2 separate regions of the Homo sapiens genome follow, and region 2 is linked to region 1. The links come from fine-mapping of genetic effects on gene expression. A gene starts in region 1. The other region holds a variant in brackets. All regions are shown on one strand. Distances are between the middles of the regions. Region 1 holds the start of ZCCHC14 (zinc finger CCHC-type containing 14). Region 2 overlaps ZCCHC14 (zinc finger CCHC-type containing 14).

Region 1 (11,650 bases):
CAAACAAATAAAACCAAGGTCAGCAGTGAGTTCATCCTTGGCTTTTAGAGGATATCACAATTGCAGTGCAAGAAGCACAGAAATACGAGAAACAAATATACAACAGAAATAAGGCCGCAAAACTTAACGCTAAGAACCCAGGAGCCATCAGCTGTGCGACCTCAGGTCAATAACAGCCTTATGAAGCCTCAGGTCCCTCATCTGTAAAACGGGAGGAAACCCTTGTTGCGTGGCAGGCTTGTGGTTGAGACTGAAAATTCTAATTACTACTGTGGCTGCCGTTGTTCAATCCATAGGCCCTGGAAGTCTGGAAGCAAGAGCTCCACACCCCAACAGTGGTTTCAAACTTTGGTGTGCACTGAGATGAGCAGGGTTACTAGCAAACATGCAAATTCCTGGCCAGGCACGGTGGCTCATACCTGTCATCCCAGCACTTAGGGAGGCGGAGGCCAGTGTATGGCTTGAGGTCAGGAGTTGGAGACCAGCCTGGCTAACATGATGAAACCCCATCTCTACTAAAAATATAGAAAATTAGCCAGGCATGGTGGTGCGTGCCTGTAATACCAGCTACTCGGGAGGCCGAGGCAGGAGAATCGCTTGAACCAGGAGGTAGAGGTTTCAGAGAGCTGAGATCGCGCCACTGCATTCCAGCCTGGGTGACAGAGGGAGACCCTGTCTCAAAAAAAAAAAAATGCGGATTCCAAGGTCCTACCCCTAGGGACCCTGACTCCATACGTGGGGCCAGGCCTAGGACCCTCCACTTTAAATAAGACCCCGGGCCATTCCCACTGGGGAAATGCTGCATCTAGCCCCACACCAAAGACACCCGGGTAAGCAAGTCTGCCATGGACAAAAACGCCTCGCCGTGCAGAAACCGGGTCTGGACGTTGTTCGGGGCTGATTGCCCATTTATGACTCTAGGTGGACTTTGTCTGCAGTCATGGCTGGAAAAGCTGGCAAGCAACAGACACCTTTGCAAAAATAGCAAATAAACAATATGTCACATTTGTGGTTTCCTCCTGGGAGGGGCAGAGTCTATGGGCAATTGACTTAGGGCAGAATCCAATTCCAACATGAACTAACTGTGTGGCCCGGGCTGAAGCCCTTGACCATTCAGTATCTGCGTGATGGGAATTCAGTATCAGAAACAGCTCCATGGGGTTTTGTCAATTACACGAGGCTGTCAGGCACCGAGGCCTGGAGCCAGGACCCCATCAGGAAATTTAGGGATCCACTGGATTTATGGCCTCCATGCTCAGGGTGTCAGGTCCCAAACCTTCTCAATGACAGGAAAGCAGGAGTCAGGCCAAGGGAAGGAAGCGCACGTTGCAGCTAGAGACCACACACACCTTGGCAGCACCCCAGGGAGAGACAATTCCCTGCCGCGCCGGGCTTCTCTGCGCACTTCCAGCCCCAATCACTTAAGGAGCCCCTGTCCCACTCTGAGTCTTCTTCTGAGGCCTCTGTTGGTGTTGTCCTGCTCCTGGCTTGGCCTCCAGATCCCTCCTCTCGTGGGGTCCTAGGTCTGAAGGAAAAGCAAGATGGTGGCAGTCTGGGGGAAGAGCATGTGCTTGGGGTCCCTGTGGCCCATTTCTGGGCTTGGCCTGGTCACCTGCTGCAGTCGGTATCACTCATTCAGAACTAAGCAGTAACGCCAGGCGGGTCATGTCCTTCTTGTAAAATTGTTTGTTTGGGGAATTTGTGGTGAACTCCAAATCTCTCTCTCTCTCTCACAATTGATACTATTAGAGTCATTTGTGCTTGATTGCAGCTCTGTGGAAGGGACAGCCCCCACTTCTCCCCTCGCCTCTTTGTGGTTATTTGTAGGGCAGTCACAGGAAACCAATAAAATGGCATTTCCCCCTAAACATGAGTGTGGCTCTCAGCGCAACCCAGTTTACAATAAATAGTCTATCCTTGCCCTATAGGACCAGGCCTCAGGAAGGGCTTGGGGGCCTCAGAGGCAAATGACACCCAGCCCTTCAACCCTGCACAACCACAGACCTCACACCCAGTGGTAGCCAATTTGGCTGAACAGCACCCTAGACTGTGGGCTCCCCCTGGTGCTGGGCCCCCTCACAAGGAGGCAGGGCCCACCCTCCTGATCTAGCCTGAGCCCCTGAGTCCTCTCCCAACCTCCTCCCAGCGATCTCAGCCGCTCCAGCAAGGCGTGGGGCTGCTGTCCTTCAGCTGCCTCCCTCTCCAGAGGAGGAGAGGCGGCAGATGTCGAGGCAGAGGTGGAGAAAAGCTCCTGGCACGCTTGCAGCTGGGGTTACCTTGTGCACGGGCAGAGTCAGGGAAGCGGGAGACAGTAGGTGCCCTGTGTGGAAAACCAGAATCTCGGGGCCAGGACCCAGAGAATGCTGGAGGGCCCGGGAGGTCAGCGTCTGCCCTCTCCTTATGAGGGAGGCCCCCTCCTTCAGGCAGCCTGCCTGCTTCAGAGTGGGGAGTCCAGGTTGTCAGTTCTGTAGGGTCGATGGACCTGGTCTCATTTGCCTCTGAGGCCCCCAAGCCCTTCCTGAGGCCTGGTCCTGTAGGGCAGGGATTTCATATTTGTTGTGAACTGGATTGAGCTGAGCCACACCGATGTCTGGGGGGATATGACATTGTTTCGGTTTCCCTGGCTGCCCTACAAGTAACCACAACACGCGTGAGTGAGGGAGGGGTGGGGAGATGGGGGTAGGGGAGGGGTGGGGGGGGGGTGGGAGATGGGGATGGGGGAGGGGTGGGAGATGGGGGTGGGAGAGGGTCGGGGGGTGGGGGAGGGTGGGGGTTGGGGGTTGAAAACAATAGCAACTTACCCTCTCACAGTTCTGGAGGCCAGGAGTCCAAAGTCAAGGTGTGGGCATGGCTCTGTTCCCTCTGGAGGCTCTAGGGGAGGGTCCTCCCTGTCTCTTGCAGCCTCTGGTAGGCCCAGGCACTCCTTGGCTCCAATCTCTGCCATTCTTGCACATAGTCTCCTTTCCCCCGAAGTCTCTATGTGTTCTTTTCTGTATCTTGTAAGGACAGTCTCATTGCATGTAGGGCTCACCTTAATTCAGTGTGATTTTATCTTGACTCTTACCTTAATTATATCTGCAAAGACTCTTTTCCCAAATAAGGTCACATTCTGAGATTTGGGGTAGAGATAAACTTTGGGGGGACATGATTCAACCTACTAAGCCATTAAATCACAAAGAGCACGCAAGAAGGACCAAAAAGGCAGCGGGAAGTGGGGAGGACCTTGATCCAAGGACTTCCACAGCTCAGGCCTCCCTTGTTCCAGCCAGCAAGGGCTTTCCATGAGCACCTTTGACTTCCACTGCTAGCCAGGATGACGGGTTCCTGGCTGTCTTCTACAGATGAGGAAACTGAGGCTCAGAGGCCTCTGAATGCATAGCCAAGTTCACACAGTCAGCCACAGCTGGGACTGGAGCTCACTTGGTACCAAAGCCTGGGGGTTTCACAGCCAGCTCGGCTGGATTGAAGAAGCCCCACCCCCACCCCCAGCACTAATGAGGTTCCAAGATCTTTCTCCAAGGAGCTTGCTTTATCAATAAGAAATGAATCTTTTGTTTTGTTTTGTTTTTGAGACAGAGTCTTACGCTGTCACCCAGGCTGGAGTGCAGTGGCGGGATCCCCATTCACCGCAACCTCCCTTTCCCGGGCTCGGGCAATCCTTCCACTGCAGTCTCCCAAGTACCTGGGACTACAGGCACATGCCACCACATCTGGCTAATTTTTGTAGTTTTTGTAGAGATGGGATTTCGCCATGTTGCCCAGGCTGGTCTCGAACTCCTGGGCTCAAGGGATCTACCCTCGGCCTCCCAAAGTACTGGGATTACAGATGTGAGCCTCTGAGCCCAGCCAAACTGTCTTGATGTTCACGTTCTTTCACTACCTTAGATTATGAATTTTGGAATGTGGCCAGTTCCCTGGAATCACATTAAGAAGTGAGGTCCAGGACAACGACGATTAATTTAATTATTAATAGAAATCAGCCTAGACCTGGGAAATAAGATGAGGAGACCCAACTGTCCCCAGCCTTGCCCTTGTGCCCATGTGGGAGGCCATCCTGACTCCATTTAGATTTTTGCTTCTTCCTACACTGACAAAGAACACTGGGGCAGCTCCAGGGAAATGTGCCCAAGGTGTGGAGGGGGCTGGGGGAGTGGAGAGCAATTTTTTTTGTTCCCAACCATGCCTTTCTGCAATCTCTGTTCATCCTCGAAGACCTAAGACTGGAGAATGTGGGGTTTGTTTGTTTTGGAGCGACTGGGGCGGGGAGGGGGGGTCTCACCATGTTGCCCAGGTTGGTCTTAAACTCTTGGCCTCAAGCGATCCTCCTGCCTCGGTCTACCCAGTAGCTGGAACCACAGGCGTGCCAGATTCGGCTGAAGAGTTTTGTTAGGAAGTTTTCAGCACCTTGGACCATATCCTGAAAAAGTTCATTCATTGATTTAACCAATCTCTAGTGTGCACTGCCCAGAACCAGAGTGTAAGCTCCACAGGGTAGGGAGGGCGCCAGCTTTGCTCTCAGCTGCCCCCGGGCGCTTGGGACCTGGAACCCATGAATGAACAGACCCCGTTCTAGATCAACAGACATTCAAAGCAGCGCTCTAGGGGAAGGGCAGGGGAGGAATGAGCGTCCAGCCCCCGCGGCTCTACTTCTATGCCTGTGTGTAAGTGGTGGGATTTAAAGGTGGTTGGGTGCACCGGCCCTTCCCCCACCTGCAATCCGGTGCCAATGCAAGTGCCAGGGGAGGGTGGCGTTTCTGTTTACTTCCAGCCAGGTCAGCTCCCTTGCCCCCTCCCCTGTGTTTGCATTTTCTGCGTTTGGCGAGCTGGTGAAGTAGCCGCGGAAAGAAGGCGGATTTAAAGGCTCCATTTGGACGAGGCTTTTGGAGAAAGCTTGCACCTCCCATCACACCCCCAGGGCAAGTCAGCCGCCTCAAAAGTGCCGGTGCCGGCCCTCTGTGAGCTCAACACCTTCGCACAAACCTCGGGGGCGGTTATTATTACCCTCTTTTTCCCGGGGAGGCGCCTGGGGCTCAGAGAGGCCAAGTGACTCGCCCAAGGTCACACAGCTTTGCAGTGGCCGACCCGGGATTGGAACCCGGGGCTCCGGACCCCGCGGCGGCCGTTTCTCGAAGATACCCACTACCTCCCTCTTACACCGCTCAAAAATAAAGCAGGAAGGCCGAACGCCCCGTTTTCGCCGAAAAACAATGCTCCACGCAAATTTGCGGGAACAAAAGCAACCAGAAATCCAGCCCGGGTTTTCCGCCTCTCCGATTCCGCGGACCAATCGCGTCTTGACGGCCGCCGAGGGACGGGAGGCGGTGGCCCCAACATGATCGACAGCCCCCAGGGAGGCGTGGCCGCGGAACGGGCGAATGGGATTGGGGACCCGGCACAATCACGGGCCGAGAACGGGCCGCCTGAGCCAATCAGTGGGGGGGGGACGGGCCCGGCAGGCCCGGGCTGTCGCGAGAGGCGGCCACCCCGCCCACTTCTGCTGATCCCGGCCGCCCGTCAGCCGCGAGCGCGACGATCCCTCCGCTCCTCGGCCGGCGCCTCCTCCGCCGTCGCCGTCGCCGTCGCCGTCGCCGTCGCCGCCGCCGCCGCGCTCGGGCCCGGATCCGTCCGCCGCGCGGGAGCAGCAAGGCCGGCAAGTCCCGGCCGGATCCCTCCGCGCCTCCCGCCGCGCGTCCCTCCCCCTCCAGCGTCCGTTTCGCGGCCGCGGCCCCCAGCGCTCCCCAGGCGGCGACGCCGCGCCCGCGGCCCGGGGTAACGGCCGGCCTGGGCGGAGGCGCGGGCGGCGGCGACGGCATGGCCGGGGCGGCTCCGTCGGGGGGCGGCCCGCAGTGACAGACCCTGCGGCGCGGGGGGAGATGGGGGCGGCCGCCTCCCGGGCGACGACGACGACGACGACGAGGAGCAGCCGCCGCCGCCGCCGCGCACCGGCCGCCGCTGGGCACGGGCGCGGGGAAGGCGCCTCCCCGTGAGCGGGGGGCCCGAGGCCGCTCGCCGCCCCCGGCCGCCCCGGCCGCCCCGGGCCCCCCCGGCGCCCCGCGCGCGCCCGCCCGCCGGCCCCTGACGGGAGCCTTGCCCGGCCCCGGTCCCCGCCCCCGCCCCGGCGCCCGCCCGGCCCGCGGCGCCCGCGCGCCCTCGCCCGGACCCGGCCCCGGCCCGCGCGTCCCCGGTCCCGGCGCGCCCCGGCCGCGGCCCCCGGCGCCCCCCGGCCGCCCCCGCGCGGTCCCCGGCCCCGGGTCGCGGCGCGGCGCGGGCGGCAGCATGGTGGAGAAGCGCTGCCCGCTGCAGAGGGACGGCGTGTACCGCTGGTTCTCGGAGCTGCCGTCGCCGCAGCGCGTGGAGTTCCTGTGCGGCCTGCTGGACCTGTGCATCCCGCTCGAGCTTCGCTTCCTCGGCTCGTGCCTGGAGGACCTGGCCCGCAAGGACTACCACTCGCTGCGCGACTCGGAGATCAAGGCCAACAACCCGGCCGACCTGGGCAGCCTCACCAACCTGACGGACGAGGTGGTGCGCAGCAAGCTGCTGGTGTCGCTGGCGCTGCTGGGCTCGGAGCAGCGCGAGGCGGCGGGCGTGCTCTACCGCACGCTCACGCACATCGACTCCATCATCCACAACTACGGGCTGCAGCTTAACGAGGGCCGCACGGGCGATGAGTTCCTGCTGCTGTTCACCATGGCCTCCAACCACCCGGCCTTCAGCTTCCACCAGAAGCAGGTGCTGCGCCAGGAGCTCACGCAGATCCAGAGCAGCCTGAACGGCGGCGGGGGCCACGGCGGCAAGGGCGCGCCCGGGCCGGGCGGCGCGCTGCCCACTTGCCCAGCCTGCCACAAGGTGCGTGCCCGCCCCGAGCTCTGCCCTGTACCCCAAGTCTGCATCCCCAACTCTGCACTCCAAGCCTCCAGCCTGCACCGCGACCCCCCGACCCACGCCTCCAGCCTGCACTGAGAGCTCCCACCCAGGTCTCCAACCTGCACCACGAGCCCCCAGCCCGTATCCCAAGCCCCATCCTAAGCCTCTATGTCGCACCCCAAATGTGTGCCCCACCTCTCCAAGCCTCCACCGTACATCCCAAGCCTCCGCCGTACATCCCAAGCCTCCGCCGTACATCCCAAGCCCCCATCCTAAGCCCGCACTCCTCACCCTAAGTCTGCACTTTAAGCCCCAAGACCGCACCGCGGCCCTGAGCCCACACCCTCAGTCCCCTCTGCGTGCCCCAAAGCCTCCACACCTCCGCCTCGCGCCCCTTGGGCAGGAGCGGCTGCAGGGGCCCTGGGTCCGAGGATCCGCGGGAGCGGTGCGGGAGACGTCCGCGGTCAGAGCTCACAGTCCCAGGTGCCCTCCTTTCACTTAGCCGGCTGCAAACGCGATAAGGCCTTTGTCCCCTTAATGGGGCCCTTGGGTGACAGATAACACACATTGCGGCGCCTTGGTTTCCCCAAATCTGGTATTTATTACCAGAAAAGGAAGGAGCCGTGGCCACGCCAGAAGCCGCCGGTGAGGTGAACATTGCAAGGCGCTGGGGCTTCCCCGTCTGAGCCGCTCCCTCCACACAGGTGGAGGCCCTGCTTGGGGCCTGTGTCGCTGGGGGCCTGGGCGCGGGACATGGCTGTCCGTGTGAGCTCATTTATGGACACGTGCATGCTGTATGATGTACGCGTGTGTCGCATGTGGGCATGTATATGTGCACACGTGTGTATGAATGTGCACATGCTTGTGAACGTTGTGTGTGATCGTTTTTAAGAGCCGGGCTACCTGTAACAGACAGAAAAAGACTCCCAGAGCCTTAAATGCCCGTGAAACCTATTTATTGGCGACCCTTAGAAACAAAACCCAGGCTGACTTTGAGTGGGAGGGCACCGATGCCTTAAGGAATGTTAGGTTAGGTTAAAGATCTCCGGTCTCCAAATTGAACCGGAAGGGCGTCCTGGCCATCCACTTAGCGATGTGAACTTTTGTCTAAGTGTTTCAGAACTGAAAACGCAAAGTGTCTGGGGCTCCAGCTATTTTGAACAGCCCCCTGCAATCCAGTGCCAAAATTTTGCTGCCGGAAGAGATTACTTTGACCTGGTGTGATGTGTATTTAGATTACAAACTGATTATTTTTTGGAAGGGAATAGGTTGCAGTCGGGACCAAGTCTTGCTCAGTGTCTCTTTGCAGTGTCTTTAAGCTCTTTGAAGTTAAAACTTTGATAAGACTTTGCTTTTATGAGTGGCTGAGAACACCGTCTGGTTTGCTAGGTTTTTTATGTGTGTGTTTTTAAAGCTGTCTTTCAATCGTAGATTGTGGCTTTTCTTTTTTAATGTCTTCCTGTAAGAAGTGGTTGTAGTACATACATCGGTTTTTTTAAATTGATTTTTGTGTGTGTGACATTTACCTCCAAGACTATAGTTTTCTTTTTAAGTTCGGCTCCCACCCTGTATTTCAGGCTGTGTGCTGTGCAGAGGGTCCTAGGAAATGTAGTTGTTTATAGTAATCCATGTAAGCCTTGACATGCCAGCAAATTGTCACCTATTCATGGAATCTCAGTCATTTATGGTCAGTTTCATGTGCTGTTACTCCTTTGTGTAGATTCCACCCACTAATAATTTCTATGGCTGTTGCTACAGTAACGTCATCTCTTTAAGGGGATTCTTAATGTGTGAGCACGGGTGCCTCACTTTATGCAGACAGTGGTGATTATTATTTTGATTGGGCAGTGAGCTAAATCTAGAACAAAAATGTCTTTTATAGGAGAGCCTTTCTGTGAAGCAGAAATCCCTTTGATGAGATGAAGGGGCTAATCTATTCCTCTCTGCTCACCCCTGCACCTCCCCCGCTACACCCCAGTCCCAAGGCCATGGGCGCTGAATTTACCAGCCGTGCAACCTTGGCCAGGATCCTTCTGCCCCTCAGTGTTGTCCCTGTTGCAGTGGAGGGGATGTAACCTACCTCACAGGCTTGTGTTGAGGATTACATAGGTAACATACATGAGCTTCCAGCAGAGGTGCAGTAAATGCTGCTTTCTCCTCTATGGCCTCTCCGGCTTTTAACATTCCTTTTTATAGAGGTTTGCTAACTTAAAGCAAGGCATGTTTTATAGATTGAATTATTTACATCTTGGCTATGAGCGTTTATGTGTTCTAAATTGGTTTTTGAGTAGTTACTTGGAGCTGACAATTTTTTTGTTTCATCTTTGGAAAACTGGAAGATTCTGTGACCCTTAATGAGAGGATTATTATAAGGAGTAACCTTGGGCTGTCATTTCCGTATTTCAAAACAACCGTGGTTTCTAGTTTTCCCTACATCCCTAGTGTCACTGCTAAGCTAATTTCAGCCCCATTCATTTAACTTTCGTTTCTGTTGCTGCTTCAAAGCTAAGGCTGACGTTGATGAACCCTTTATTGCTTGGAGCATGCAACTCAGATGAAATCTAGCATTTAAGTATTTTGCTTTCTTAGTTTCTAAATCTAACGTTTGGTGTATTCCTGAAAAAGCAGCCCCGTTAAAGCTGTCTGCATTCTTTTGTAAGCTGTTGTATTTTATTTTGAACTCTTTGAGCTTAGAGACTTTGTATTTTTCTTTTAGAGATACAAATGTCAATGGCTTTTTAAATTCTTTATCCAATTTGAATTTTTATTTCTTGGCCTGGCAAGGTGGCTTACGCCTGTAGTCCCGGAAGTTTGGGAGGTCAAGGTGGGCAGATCGCTTGAGCCCAGGAGTTCAACACCAGCCTGGGCAACACAGCAAAACCCTGTCTCTACAAAAAATACAAAAATTAGCCAGGAGTGGTGGCACACACTTGTAGTCCCTGCTACTTGGGAGGCCGAGGTGGGATGATTACCTGATCCCAGGAGGTAGAGGCTGTAGGTGAGGTATGATCATGCCACTGCATTCCAGCCTGGGTGACAGAGTGAGACTGTGTCTCAAAAAATTTTTTTTAAATTTATTTTAACTGTATTTTCCGAAATAGTCATTATTTGCAATTCCTTGTCCAAATCCTGTGTTTTTATTTAAAAATTCTTATTATTCTGAGGACTTCTAGAGGTGTAAAAGTGGGGGGAGTACAAAGTAGACATACCTGTATTTTACTTTCAGAAAGAAAAATACTTCCAGTAGCCACACTGATGGTAGGCTGAATTAGTTGTACTCTGCCTAGTGGCCGGTAATGCTGCTGCTTGCTGCTCCTGCAGTCGCCTGTTCCAGGGTGCCAACTGTGGGGGATAGTTGGCTTAGACTTTCCAATGCCTATTTTACGTAAATAAAAGACCATAGTTTTGGAAATAGTTAAAATAAATCCTTTGCGGCTTTTTCTTTGTGTCAGTGATAATTAATATGCTGTGGTATGTGCACATGCTTATTCTTGTTTAAAAAATAACAGCTTTATTGAAAGAGAATTCATATACTATATATACTTCACCCTTTTACAGTGAAGTCAGTGGTTTTTAGTATAGTCATATAGCTGTGCAAGCACGACCACTGCCACTGAACGTTTCCATCTCCCCAAAAAGAAACCCAGTGCCTATTAGGAGTCGCTCCCCATTCCCCCTCCCCCCAACCCTTGACCACCCCTTTTTGTCTCTATGGGTGTCTTTTTTGGACGTTGCATATAAGGGGACCACACACCGTGTGGCCCTTTGTGACTGGCTTCCTTCACTCGGTGTCGTGATGTCAGGGCCCGTCCATGCTGTGGGTGTGTCAGCACTTCCTCCTCTTTCGCTGCCGAGTGGCGTTCCCCTGTGTGAAGAGGCCGAGCTGTGCTCACGCATTCTTCAGCGGGTGGACCTTGGAGTTGCTTCACATGCTTGCTTTTGTAGACTTTTGTCTTCATGGTTAATAGGCTCTTTGTCTTCACCCCCGTGCACTGTGCCTAACACTTAGCGCATCCTCTGTGGACCGCTGGCGCACGTGTCGGTGCGGGGCTGTCCTGAGGGCTCCTGTTCCACCTGGTGGATTGCTAGGTGCCGTGTGCAGAGCTGTGTAGGTGTGGCCTCAGCCAGCCTGGGGAGCTGCAGCTGGAGGTGGCAGGGAACTCTGTGCTGTCAGTACAGAGCCTCCGGGCTGGTGCATTTGGTCAGCGACAGGTATGGGGGAGCAGGGCCTGGTGGGCAGGGGCGGGGCCCCGCCTGAGCTGCAGCTGTGAGGGCCCTGCCGTTTGTGTTTCAGCATCCTCAGGGTATGGATAATGAACTGCTTCATGGGGCTGATTTTTTTAAGGGGGTACTAAAAAAAATAACGTTTTTAAAGTTTTTGGTGCAGGAGTGTGGTGGGGTGGTGGTCTTCTTTAGGGGTAGGTTCTGTGGAACAGTTCTGGAACTCTCTGTGGCTTGCATTGTGAGTGCCTGAGGATAAGCACTGTGGAAACTTCAGATAGACACAAATACCGTGAATAAACCTGCTGAAAATGTCTGTCCAAAGATCAGCAACAGCTTTTGCTTCGTTGCTTTTCGTAAGCTGTTGAAAATCATTGCAGTTCAGAGGTGAAACATGGGATAGTTCATCCTCTGGTTATCAGGCAAAGTATAAGTGGTTTCTTTTGGTTTCTCCTTTAGCCCTAAACTCTGGGCCTATTGCAGCCAAGAGTCATCTAGCATTCCATAAGAACGGACTCTCTCTGGAGCAGCTGTTGTCACTGATGGTTAAAGGAATAGCTGTGAC
Region 2 (11,650 bases), 32 kb after region 1:
TTCTCTTCTAAAAGTTATGGTCAGGTCCGTGAACATTAAAGTGGGTTGTAAGCACAGAGCTGTAAAGTAGCCTGTGTGGTGCTGGGTTTTTTTCTGTCAGGCGGCATGAACTAAGGACAAACCTTTTTTTAAAAAAAAGCGTAAATACCTGAGGCGGGGGGTAGTTAGCGGGGGTCACAACCTGCAGCCAGCGTCAGCTCTTCTGCAGGCGTAGCTCCTCACCCTTGCCTGGAAGGGCCTTTGATTCCCTCTGGTCTAATTGCGCAGTGCGGGGATTCCCTTTTCCATCCCATCTAAAGGGACGTTGCGGAGACCGGGCTCGGTGGCTCACGCCTGTAATCCCAGCTAAGGCGGGAGGATGGCTTGAGCCCAGGAGTTTGAGATCAGCCTGGGTAACATGGTGAGACCCTGGCTCTGTTTATTTTTTTTTAATAAAAAAATAAGAGGAGGCTGTTGAGCCTTTGACTGTTTTGATCATGGTGAAGATTTACCTTGAAATATTCATGCAGCAGCATTATCATGTGGGAGCTGGTTAGAAATGCAAGATTCTCAGGCCCACCCCGGACCTCATGAATCAAACCTGCGTTTCAGCCAGATCCGGAGGCATTTTGCACATTAAAGTTTGGAAGCAGAGGCCTCCTCTCTTTAAACTGTAACAGTAAGAAGGGTGATTGCATAAGAGCCAGAGGCGGGCTGCCCAAGTCCAGGTGCCCCTAGATGTGTGGCCACTGTGGAACCTCAGTCAGCTTTCCTGGAAGAGCCCCAGGGGCGGGTGTGCCCCGTGACTACCAGTAGCTTGCTTCAGAGTCATATTTCATTCCTGGGTTAGCGCTTTGTAGATGTGGTGGAACAATCTGATTGTCTGTTACATAATGTAGATTGCAGAAGTTTTTGTTTGAAATAGAAGTGCTTTCCGTTTGATTCTGAATTTCATTAAAATTTGGTGATATCATGATGTATTTTACAGATCCTTATTAACGGCCTGCTTCATGCCAGGCCCAGTTCGAAGTGCAAAGGAACAGCAGTGAACAAAGCAAACCAGAAACACAGCTGCCTTGCTGAGCATCGAGAAGTCTTGCTAAGAAGGACGTTTGAGTATAGATGGGAAGGCACAGGGGCGCTTCCAGGCAGAGGGGACAGCCAGGGCGAAGGCCCCAGGCAGATGTGACTGCTGTGCCCAGGGCAGCAGTGCATGGAGTGAAGAGCTGGGGGAGGACTGGATGCCAGGTTGCAGGGGCCAGGCAGAGGGTTTTTGTGGGTTGTGGGAAGAGGCTGGCTGTGGAGAGGAAGAGAGCAGCTTATCGTTGCCTTCCTAGCAGTAGCAGAAGGCAGCCTTTGGAGCCGGTCAGTCTTCCCTCTCGTGCACATCAGGCCAGATGACGAGTCCTGCGGGTGAGCCTGAGTCAGAGAGCACTTGAGTGGAACATAGGTCACGTGGAGCAAACTAACTTCACCAAAAATAACCCCAAAACAGCATTTCTGGGAAACACAAGTGAAGACAGCTTTCAATGTAAACAAAGGAACAAAGTTACGATAAAGGCTTGGTTGGAAAAAGTGAACATGTGGAAAACTAAGAAGAAATTCCTTGGGAAAATATACGGAGGAAAACAGGTCTTTCTTTTCCAGCAGTTGCCATTCTAAAGAGTTTTCCTTCCTGTCTTGATGTCAGATGCAGTGTGTGTTTTGCTAGGGTGGCTCACGGGCTTTCCCCTTCCAGTTGTGGTTGTGGCAGACGGACCTACAGCCTTTAGCTCTTCCTGTCTGCGTGGGGAAAAGACTTCCTGTTTTCTCTGGGTCTCCTCTTTGTCCTTGCCGGGATTGGACCGGATGATGGGTGCAGTATAAAACCTGGACTTGGGGTCGTGGTTGGTTCTTAGCCTAGCTGCAAATTAGAATCACCAGAGAAGCTTCAGGCACAAAACAAAAGAAGCCCCGTTTCCAGAAACTCTGATTTTGGTGGGGAGTGTGGGATGTGGTTTTCTCAGGGCCTTGGTGTTCCAGTGTGCTGTCGAGGCCGAGAAGCACTAATCAGTACTGCTCTCCTTCTCTCCAAGGCTGTGTTTTCCCCTGCTCAGCCCTCCTCTCCCCTTCCTCCCCTAGCAGGCTGAGAGTTGGGAGGCTGGCTTTCCTTTGTGTCTCTTTGGAGTGTTTTAGGGTGGGCAGGCGGTGTGTGTGTGCGAGAACGCACTGATCACACGTGTTTCTTTTTGGGGCAGGAAGGTTTGCCACTACCAGCAAAGTTGGAACTGCTGATGCTGGTTGTCAAGGCAGCTCACTCTCAGCTGTGCGTGCTGGTGTGCACCTGTGGTCCCAGTTACTCAGGAGGCTCAGGTGGAAGGATCACTTGAGCCCAGGAGGTCGAGGCTGCGGTGAGTTATGATTGTGCCACTGCATTCCAGCCTGAGTGACAGAAGAGACTCTGTTTGTTTTTTTTTCTCCTGAGACGGAGTCTTGCTCTGTCACCCGGGATGGAGTGCAATATGGTGTAATCTCAGCTCACTGCAACCTCCACCTCCCGCGTTGAAGCGATCCCCCTGCCTCAGCCTCCCGAGTAGCTGGGATTACAGGTGCCCGCCACCACACCTGGCAAGTTTTTGTATTTTTAGTAGAGACGAGGTTTCATTCACCATGTTGGCCAGGCTGGTCTCGAACTCCTGACCTCAGGTGATCTGTCCGCCTCGGCCTCCCAGAGTGCTGGGATTACAGACGTGAGCCACCGTGCCCAGCTGAGACTCCGTCTCTTAAAAAAGAGAAAAGGCAGCTCACTTTCTCTTCTTAGAACCAGGACTTAGAATATGTACCAAAGTAGCTAAGAGAATGTGGAGGTTCATGCATCAGGCCAAATCGAATGGGCTCTGCTGTGGTTATATTTCTTTTGTTTTCTTGAGACAGGGTCTCGCTATCGCCCAGGCTGGAGTGCACTGATATGATCATACCTCACTGCAGCTTCAAACTCCTGGGCTCAAGCGATGCTCCCACCTTAGCCTCCCAAGTAGTTGGGACTGCAGGCACAGGCCACGACACCCAGCTAATTTTTGTGTTTTTGTAGAGATGGGGGTCTCAATATGTTGCCTAGGCTGACCTTGAACTCGTGGCCTCAAGTGATCCTCCTGCTTTGGCCTCCCAAAGTGCTGGAGTTACAGGTGTGAATCACTGCACCTAGCTGTGTTTCTTTTTTCTTTTTTTCTTTTTCTTTGAGACAGAGTTTCACTCTCGTTGCCCAGGCTGGAGTGCAATGGCGCAATCTCGGCTCCCTACAACCTCCAACTCCGGGGTTCAAGCGATTCTCCTGCTTCAGCCTCCCCAGTAGCTGAGATTAGAGGCGTGCGCCACCATGCCTGGCTAATTTCGTATTTTTAGTAGAGACGGGTTTCACCATGTTGGTCAGGCTGGTCTCAAACTCCTGACCTCAGGTGATCTGCCTGCCTCGGCCTCCCAAAGTGCTGGGATTACTGGCGTGAGCCACTAAGCCTGGCCTCGGCCGTGTTTGTTTTTTTTCTTTTTTCTTTTTTCTTTTTTTTTTTTTTGTGAGATAGAGTCTCTGTCGCCCAGGCTGGAGTGCTGGGGCGCGATCTCGGCTCACTGCAAGCTCCACCTTCCGGGTTCACACCATTCTCCTGCCTCAGCCTCCCGAGTAGCTGGGACTACAAGCACCCGCCACCATGCCTGGCTAATTTTTTGTATTTTTAGTAGAGACGGGGTTTCACCGTGTTAGCCAGGATGGTCTTGATCTCCCGACCTTGTGATCCACCTGCCTCGGCCTCCCAAAGTGCTGGGATTACAGGCGTGAGCCACTGCACCCGGCCTTGGCTGTGTTTCTTGTACAGTTAATGTGTTAACCTCCTGAGTTGTCTTGCAAAGTAATATGTACTGTTTGGAACTAAAAATCTCCTTGTGTAAGATTTGTATCGTACTTGTATCGGTTCTATTATCTTGTTTAGTGGGAAAGGAGTTCATTTCTGGGTTCTCTAACCATAGAATAATGAAAGAGACTTTGTTAAATCGGAAGGAAATCACCCAATTTAAATTACAAATATAAGAAATTCAAAAAATTTTATTTTCTTGATAACATGTTATTAAGTTATCCAAAGAATTGACTTTCTGGAGGAGTTGCTGCATGGCTAGGACTTTTTTTTTTTTTTTTACTTTTTTAGAAATTTAAATAGAGACAGGGTCTCGCTGTTACCCAGGCCAGTAACAAACTCATAGTTTCAAGCAGTCCTCCTGCCTCAGCCTCCCAAAGTGCTGGGATTATAGCCATGAGCTGCTGCGCCCGGCCTTATTTTCTCGAGTTACATAAACTTCCCAATTATGTAGCCCTGTGACAAGTTGCTTTTCTTGGAAGGCATCTGTTGAGCCGCGTGGGATCTGTTAGTCCCTCTCCCTGCATGAACAGCCCAGGAGGGCTTCTTGCTGGGGGGCAGGGGCATTGACAGAGCTGGGATCAGAGGATCTCGCTATGGACTTGGGTGTGGCCCCTGTGGCTTGCTGTCTGTGGAATACAGCAGGTGCTGGTCCTGCCGGAGTGGCAGCAGTCTCCACCCTTTCCTCCCAACTCCAGCTTCCGCCTCCACTTTCATCCTGTCTGAGGTCGAGGCCACGCCTACCTGGCCAGCCCTCTGCAGAGCGAGTGCTGGGATCTGTGCTTGTGAGTGAACTTAGGGGATGTTTTGGTCAACTGCCACCTACCGTCCAGGTATGAGATGAAAGAACAAGTGGAGGCTGGAGAGGTCAGGCCATTTTCCAGGCTGCTTGTGCCATGTACTTTCCCATACTGTGAATGCAGCATTGCTTATCAGCTCTTTTGATGAACTTTAAAATCTTACGCCTCTCATATCCTCCGAAATTTTGAAATACATTGAGACTGTAAAGAAGTTACAGCATTGGCCATTTTTATTCTTCTAAATCCTATAAGTTATAAATGTGTTTTGGCTGTGAAATTTTAAAATACTGATGGGGAGGGAATGAAGGTTATTGCTACCCCCCTCCTCTCGCCCCTCTGGGCCCCTTCCGGCTTATTCCACATTCACACCATCACTGAACCCAGGAAGCAGGAGGGGTGGGACGAGCCTGGCTAGCCCGTGGCTTGTTTCTGCGCTTGTTGTGTGTTGGGAGCACTGGTGGTCAGGAGGGCCTCCCCCACCCACAGCTTGGGGGCGGCCGTCACCTGCAGGTACACTGTCTGTGCTTAGCAGGTCTCTGTCGATGGGGACTGAGGGTGTGCCCCGCTTTCCCTGTCACAGACACTCCTGCAGTGGGCACACCCCATCAGGTCATTTTCTCACGTGTGAGTACTTGGTATGGTGAATTCCTAGAAATGGAATTGGGATGTAATTTTAGGATATGCTTTTTCAAACTGTACCCCAAATAGACCGAGTTGTATTCTGTTCTTTGCTGTTGTTTTTAAAGCATTTTATGATTTAAGATTTATAGAAGGAGAATGTTAAGTCCTGCTGTGTAATTCGTTTTATAGGGAGCTATTTGATTTGAAGAAATATGAAAATAAAAGTTTGCCTCAAATAAAAATATATAATTCATGCCACCTTGGCTAACATAGTTCCTTTTTTTTTTCTTGGAGATAGAGCCTTACTCTGTTGCCCAGGCTGGAGTGTAGTGTCACCATCTTGGCTCACTGCAGCCCCTGCCTCCTGGGTTCAAGTGATCCTCCCACGTCAGCCTCCCGAGTAGCTGGGACTATAGGCACTTGCCATCACGCCTGGCTAATTTTTGTATTTTTAATAGAGATGGGGTTTCACCATGTTGGCCAGGCTGGTCTTGAACTCCTGGGCTCAAGAGATCCACCTGCGTCAGCCTCCTAAAGTGCTGGGATAACAGGCGTGAGCCACCGTGCCCGGCCTCTTTGGCTACCATAGTTTCTGTGCACCCGATGAACCCCAGCCACAAGACGTAAGCGCCCGTGTTTGACTCAAGTTATCTGAGCTCTTTTGCACTTTCAGTGGAGAGTAGTAGGTGAAATTTTCATCTTTCTTGGGGAAGGCTTATTATTATAATAATACATGTTTTGTAGAAAAATGGAAACCAAGGTAATTATGAAAGACTTAATTAACAAATAAAATTGTCCCCTATTAACTCCGTGGGAGAAAATAAGATGATTCTGTTTCTGTTCCCTCAG[A/G]TCACTCCAAGAACTGAGGCCCCTGTCAGCAGTGTCAGTAATAGTTTGGAGAATGCCCTGCACACATCAGCACATTCCACGGAGGAGTCGCTGCCCAAGAGGCCCTTAGGAAAACACAGCAAAGGTGAGTGCACGCACGGGTTTCAGGAGGACGTCTGACGGACGGAGGATGGGCACACCCCAGATCCCCGTGAGGGCATTGTTAAATGCTTTCAGATCTTTCATAAATGCCAATCTTATGTGTATTTTTCTAAATTCTATAAGCAATACATGAATATGCTTTGGCTGTAAAAATCTCAATTATTGATGTTTTTTAAGGAGAAGTCCAGACGTGGTTTCTCACACCTGTAATCCCAGCACTTTGGGAGACTGAGGTGGGCGGATCACCTGAGGTTGGGAGTTTGAGACCAGCCTGACCAACATGAAGAAACCCCATCTCTACTAAAAATACAAAATTAGCTGGGCGTGGTGGCGGGCATCTGTAATCCCAGCTACTCGGGAGGCTGAGGCAGGAGAATCGCTTGAACCCAGGAGGCGGAGGTCGTGGTAAGCCAAGATCACGCCATTGCACTCCAGCCTGGGCAACAAGAGCAAAACTCCGTCTGAAAAAAAAAAAAAAATTAGCCAGGCCTGGTGGTGCACGCTTGTAATCCCAGCTACTTGAGAGGCTGAGGCAGGAGAATTGCTTGAACCCAGGAGGTGGAGGTTGCAGTGAGCCGAGATCGTGCCACTGCCCTCCAGTCTGGGTGACAGAGTGAGATTACATCTCAAAAAAAAAAAAAGGGTGGGAGGAATAAGTTTTACACCCTCCTCCCCACCCCACATGGAAATCATCCTTAACCACTAGAGCGGTGTTGTCCTGAAGCGCTCTCTGTGGTGACGGAGTGTTTTCCACCTGCACTGAGTTGGTTGTCAGCAGCCACACGTGCCTTCCGCGCACTTGAAACATGGCTAATGTGACTGGCTACCTGAGTCTTTATTTTTCTTTAACGTACACGTGGACAGCTCAGCGTGGGTAGTGAGGCGCGGCCTGAGCCCCTGTGGCTCTGCACGCCAGCCTCTGCCGTGTTATGATCAGCTGCAAAGTTGGTAACCATGCCATAGTAGTGGAGGCTTTGGGGAGGGGAGAGTAAGGTGGTTTGTAGGACTAGATGGACCAGATAATGCATACCCGGTAAAATAAATGCTTGTGTGGTTTGCAGAATCGTCAGTAGTGGGGAGACAGAGACCAGGGTGGCGCTTTCCAGTGGGGTCACTGGTCCTGAGCCCCCATGGCATAGAGGTACCGAGGCCGGCTGTGTCCGCATCTGCTGGCCTCTATTCTCCCTGTGTTATTTACAAAGATGTTTGTCTCCTAGCAGGTGCGCCACGTGAGGCCCAGAGCCGCACTCGCTCACCCTGTGCGCTCTCCCCCAACCGCCCCGCACCGTCCCCGTCCCTGGCACGGCGCTTCGTGCCTTCCACAGGCTTCATAACTGCTTTGTTTCTAAAGTCCCGTTCTGACAACGCCATCGAGAGCCACCTGTCTCTGATTTAGATCCTAACTCAGGAAGGACCCATTTCCCCAGCAGCTGCAGCCTCTGTTGATGTAATGAGCACGGTATGGTATGGAGACAGTAACTCCTTACTGCAGCCCTGCGAGGGCTCCTGTCCCCACTTGACCCTCGTAGCAACCCCCTGAGGTCGCAACAGTCTTTGTCTTATCCACTGCTCTTGGGAGGGTCTGTGGCTCTTGGTTGAGCGTCTTCACCGCACCCTCATCCTGGTGATGCCGCGATGCTCCAACCCCAGAGCGGACACTTGGCGTCGGAATTGCAGGGAGTCCCTCCGCTGTAGAAAGGGCTCCTCCTCTTCCTTCCCCCATGCCATCCCAGGAGAAAGGCCTGCCGTGGAGTGCCGCTTCCTTTGTCCCCAGACAGTCCAGCCTAGGAACCTGTGCCCTGCACACCCTGTGAATCTTAAGGGATGGACCCTTCAGTGCTTTTTCTTCAGGATGTAATTATTGACATCCCCATTCTTTTTTTTTTTTTTCTGTATAATTTCAAAGTAGCGAGTATCTGTCATTGTCTCGTCTGCATGCTTTGGTGCCCAGAGAGACAGAGGGTGAGCTGACTCTCATGTGAGCTGTGGCAAAGCCTGCGTAGGCTGGCGGGTCGGCTCTGAGGCCACGAGTGGTCATTCTCAAACCCCACAGTGCTTAAAATACCGCAGCGAGCAGACGCTCTTAATTACCTGCAGCATTCTCCATTCATTAGTCATAGAGGGTCGCGGTTTCTGTTGTCCGGAAATTGGCAAGTGAGTTAACTTGGTTTTCTTAGTCACTTTTCATGTGAATCCTTTTAATATTCTGTTGGGTGCAGGTTATTGCCCTTCAGAAAGTCTAAAGTCACAGTAAGTTGTATAGTTTTATTACTATAAAGTTTTCTCTCTGTCTTTTCTGTATCCTACTTCTGTTTTGGTTTTTCTCTGCTTCTTCAGAAGTCTTACAGTGATACAGTTTAATTTATAGAGTGGTCAGACATTTAAAAAATTTCTTAGTATGTAAAAGGTTAGGGAAGCTTTTATATACTTGAACAACAGTCCAAGCACATGACTAACTTACATGACAGATACTGACTTACATCATCTTCATAACAGCCCTTTGAGGGCTGATTATACCTATTTAATTCTAACTGATCCCATGTGGTGATTTTTACCCCATTTTACAGATGGGAGAACTGAGTCACAGATAAGAAATTTTCCTGAGGTCAGCTGGGATTCAAAGCCAGAGCTAATGCTCTTAACCCTGTGGCTGGCTGAAGAAAATAGCAGAGGAAAAGAAAGGTGGGACTGTACTGAAAGTGGAAAACACACCGTTGTGTGGGCAGTGCCTATGAGTACACATTAACCAGTGAAATCATTCCTTTTTTTCCTGACCTATTTATTGTGAACATTTTCCAGTTCAGGAGTAGAGATTGTAGCCTAGTAAACCCCGTACCCAGTGCCTGGCTGCAGCTCCAGGTCACTGTGTGTGGCTTCTGAGCCCCCTGCCCCTCGTGGGTGTGGCTGAGAACTGCGGTGCACTCTCCAGCGCTCCAGTCCCTGTGTTGATGATTTACTGAAACTTAGGGAAGCTGTTGTAGTGTACAAGCTGAGATGGAAACTGCTTTTACTAATACTCTCAACAAAGTAAGTTCTGTAACTTTGGACTTTGAGGAATTATAATTTTTTAAAGTTTTCTTTTTGTGAGACAGTGAAGGAGGTATACTTTCATTAAACTTGTTTATATACCAGTAGTTTTCAATCTTTTTGGTCTTAGGACCCCTTTGCACTCTTAAAAATTAGAGATTCCAAAGAATCCATGTTTATGTGGGTCACATCTATAGGTATTTACCATATTATCGATTAAAACTGAGTTTTTAAAAATTATTTTAAATGAATGTTTTCCATTGTGTGCCCCTGGGGTTTGTGTTTGCCATGCAGCGTTGTTACAGCTGAAGAGAGCTAAAGACCAAACTCCAAAACAAAATCTATCCCAACCAATTAGAACATGAATTCTAAGAAGACAAGAATTCACCTAAAATCTAAATTTTTTTTTTTTTTTTTTTTTTTTTTTTTTGGAGACAGAGTCTTGCTCTGTCGCCCAGGCTGGAGTGCAGTGGCGCAATCACAGCTCACTGCAACCTCCGCCTCCCGGGTTCACGCCATTCTCTTGCCTCAGCCTCCGGAGTAGCTGCTGGGGCTACAGGTGCCGGCCACCACGCCCGGCTATTTTTTTATATTTTTAGTAGAGACGTGGTTTCACCGTGTTAGCCAGGATAGTCTCGATCTCCTGACCTCGTGATCCGCCCGCCTCGGCTTCCCAAAGTGCTGGGATTACAGGCGTGAGCCACTGCGCCCAGCCCTAAAATCTAAATTCTAAAATGCCCACAGTCTGTGGCCTTTCCTGGGTTGTGCTGGGATTCCAGTGTGTAGCCGAAATCGAGAAGCCTTGATAGTTTCAATTTCCTTATGGGTTCTTTATCTAACATTTTATTATGAGGACTTTGAAACACACGGTAAAGTTGAAAAAGTTTCACAGTGAGTACCCTTCACCTAGATTAGACAGTTCCATTTTACCGCATAGATGCTTTTCAACTTACAGTGGGGGCTGCAAGTTGAAAATACCACAAGTTGCAATGCAGTGAATACACCACACCTGCTACACATCATGGCTTAGCCTAGCCTACCTTAAATGTGCTCAGAACGCTTGCATTAGCCTGCAGGTGGGCAAAATTATCTAACACACAGCCCACTTCATAGTGAAGTTTTGACTCATGTAATCTATTGAGTCTGTACTGAAAGTGGAAAACAGAATGGTTGTATGGGCGCTCGAAGCAGTTCCTTCTGAATGCATGTTGCTTTTGCACTGTTGTAAAGTCGAAAAATCGTCAACTCCAGCCATCTTCAGTCAGGGACCATCTGTACTTACTATTTTTAAGCTGGTTGCCTGTAGCATTCCTCAGCCACGGATTCTGATTTGAACCCCAGGGCACAGAGAATCATTTGAGTGATGGTTTTCTCAATTTCCCTGAAGAAAATGTGATTAGAGACACAGGAGGAGTCAAGTTCTTCATCGTAGAAGAGCTTCTGTAGGACGCTAGGACTTTGCGCCCTCTATGAGCCCCCCATTTAAGAGAAGCAACAGGAATGCACTACACATCTTTACCTTTTCAGGCTCTACTCTGAGTTAATGTTGAGCCACTCCATGTGACACAGAAGCCTCTTGTCACTGTGTTGTTCATTGGGGTGCCGAGGCCAGCTCATGGTATCTCCTGAGAGCCAGTCGTTCACTTTCCAGTATTTTTTTTTGCGGGGGCGGGGGGGGACGGAGTTTCACTCTTGTTGCCCAGGCTGGAACACAATGGCACGATCTCGGTTCACCACAACCTCCACCTCCTGGGGTCAAGTGATTCTCCTGCCTCAGCCTCCCTAGCAGCTGGGATTACAGGCATGTGCCACCACGCCTGCCTAATTTTGTATTTTTAGTAGAGATGGGGTTTCTCCATGTTGGTCAGGCTGGTCTTGAATTCCCGACCTCAGGTGATCTGCCCGCCTCGGCCTCCCACAGTGCTGGGATTACAGATGTGAGCCACGGCGCTCGGCCTCCAGGATTTTTTAAAGCCCGCTGATGTTGCATTGGTGGCTGATGGTGGCATGTCGTCAGCCGTGGCAGAGCATTTATGCTTTGTGGATCGGCAGATGACACAGATCAGGGGCCGCCCCGTCCTCACCAGTTGTCAGCCGTTTACCAGGCATCATCAGTGCAGCTCTGCCCTGTCCTGTATGTGTACTTGTCACATGGGTCCAGCTACGTGTGCTCTGCACCATGTAAAACAGGGCTAGGATTTTTGCATCTATTCTAAGAAAGGAAAAGGAAAAAGATGATAGTCTTTTATATTATCCATACTATTTACTATTCCCACTGCTCTTCATTTTATCCTGAAAATTGGAATTTCCATCTGGTCTCATTTCCCGTCAGCCTGAAGAACTTCCTTT

What was found.
Region 2: its variant is fine-mapped to the expression of ZCCHC14 in whole blood (INTERVAL, PIP 0.98).

Annotation. Positions count from the first base shown.
Region 1 is chr16:87,486,865-87,498,514 of GRCh38, reverse strand. It overlaps ZCCHC14 (zinc finger CCHC-type containing 14), which reads left to right and starts at 5,491. Exons shown (of 13, transcript NM_015144.3): 1 at 5,491-6,846. The coding sequence starts at 6,277. ZCCHC14-DT (ZCCHC14 divergent transcript) reads right to left here and starts at 4,328. Exons shown (of 4, transcript NR_110943.1): 1 at 4,280-4,328. RefSeq lists a silencer at 5,373-5,552.
Region 2 is chr16:87,454,615-87,466,264 of GRCh38, reverse strand. ZCCHC14 (zinc finger CCHC-type containing 14) reads left to right here. Exons shown (of 13, transcript NM_015144.3): 2 at 6,134-6,257. Among named protein-coding and RNA genes, the nearest start is that of ZCCHC14, 33 kb to the left of the region's middle. RefSeq lists an enhancer at 7,893-9,092. The variant A/G (reference allele first, on the strand shown) is at 6,134.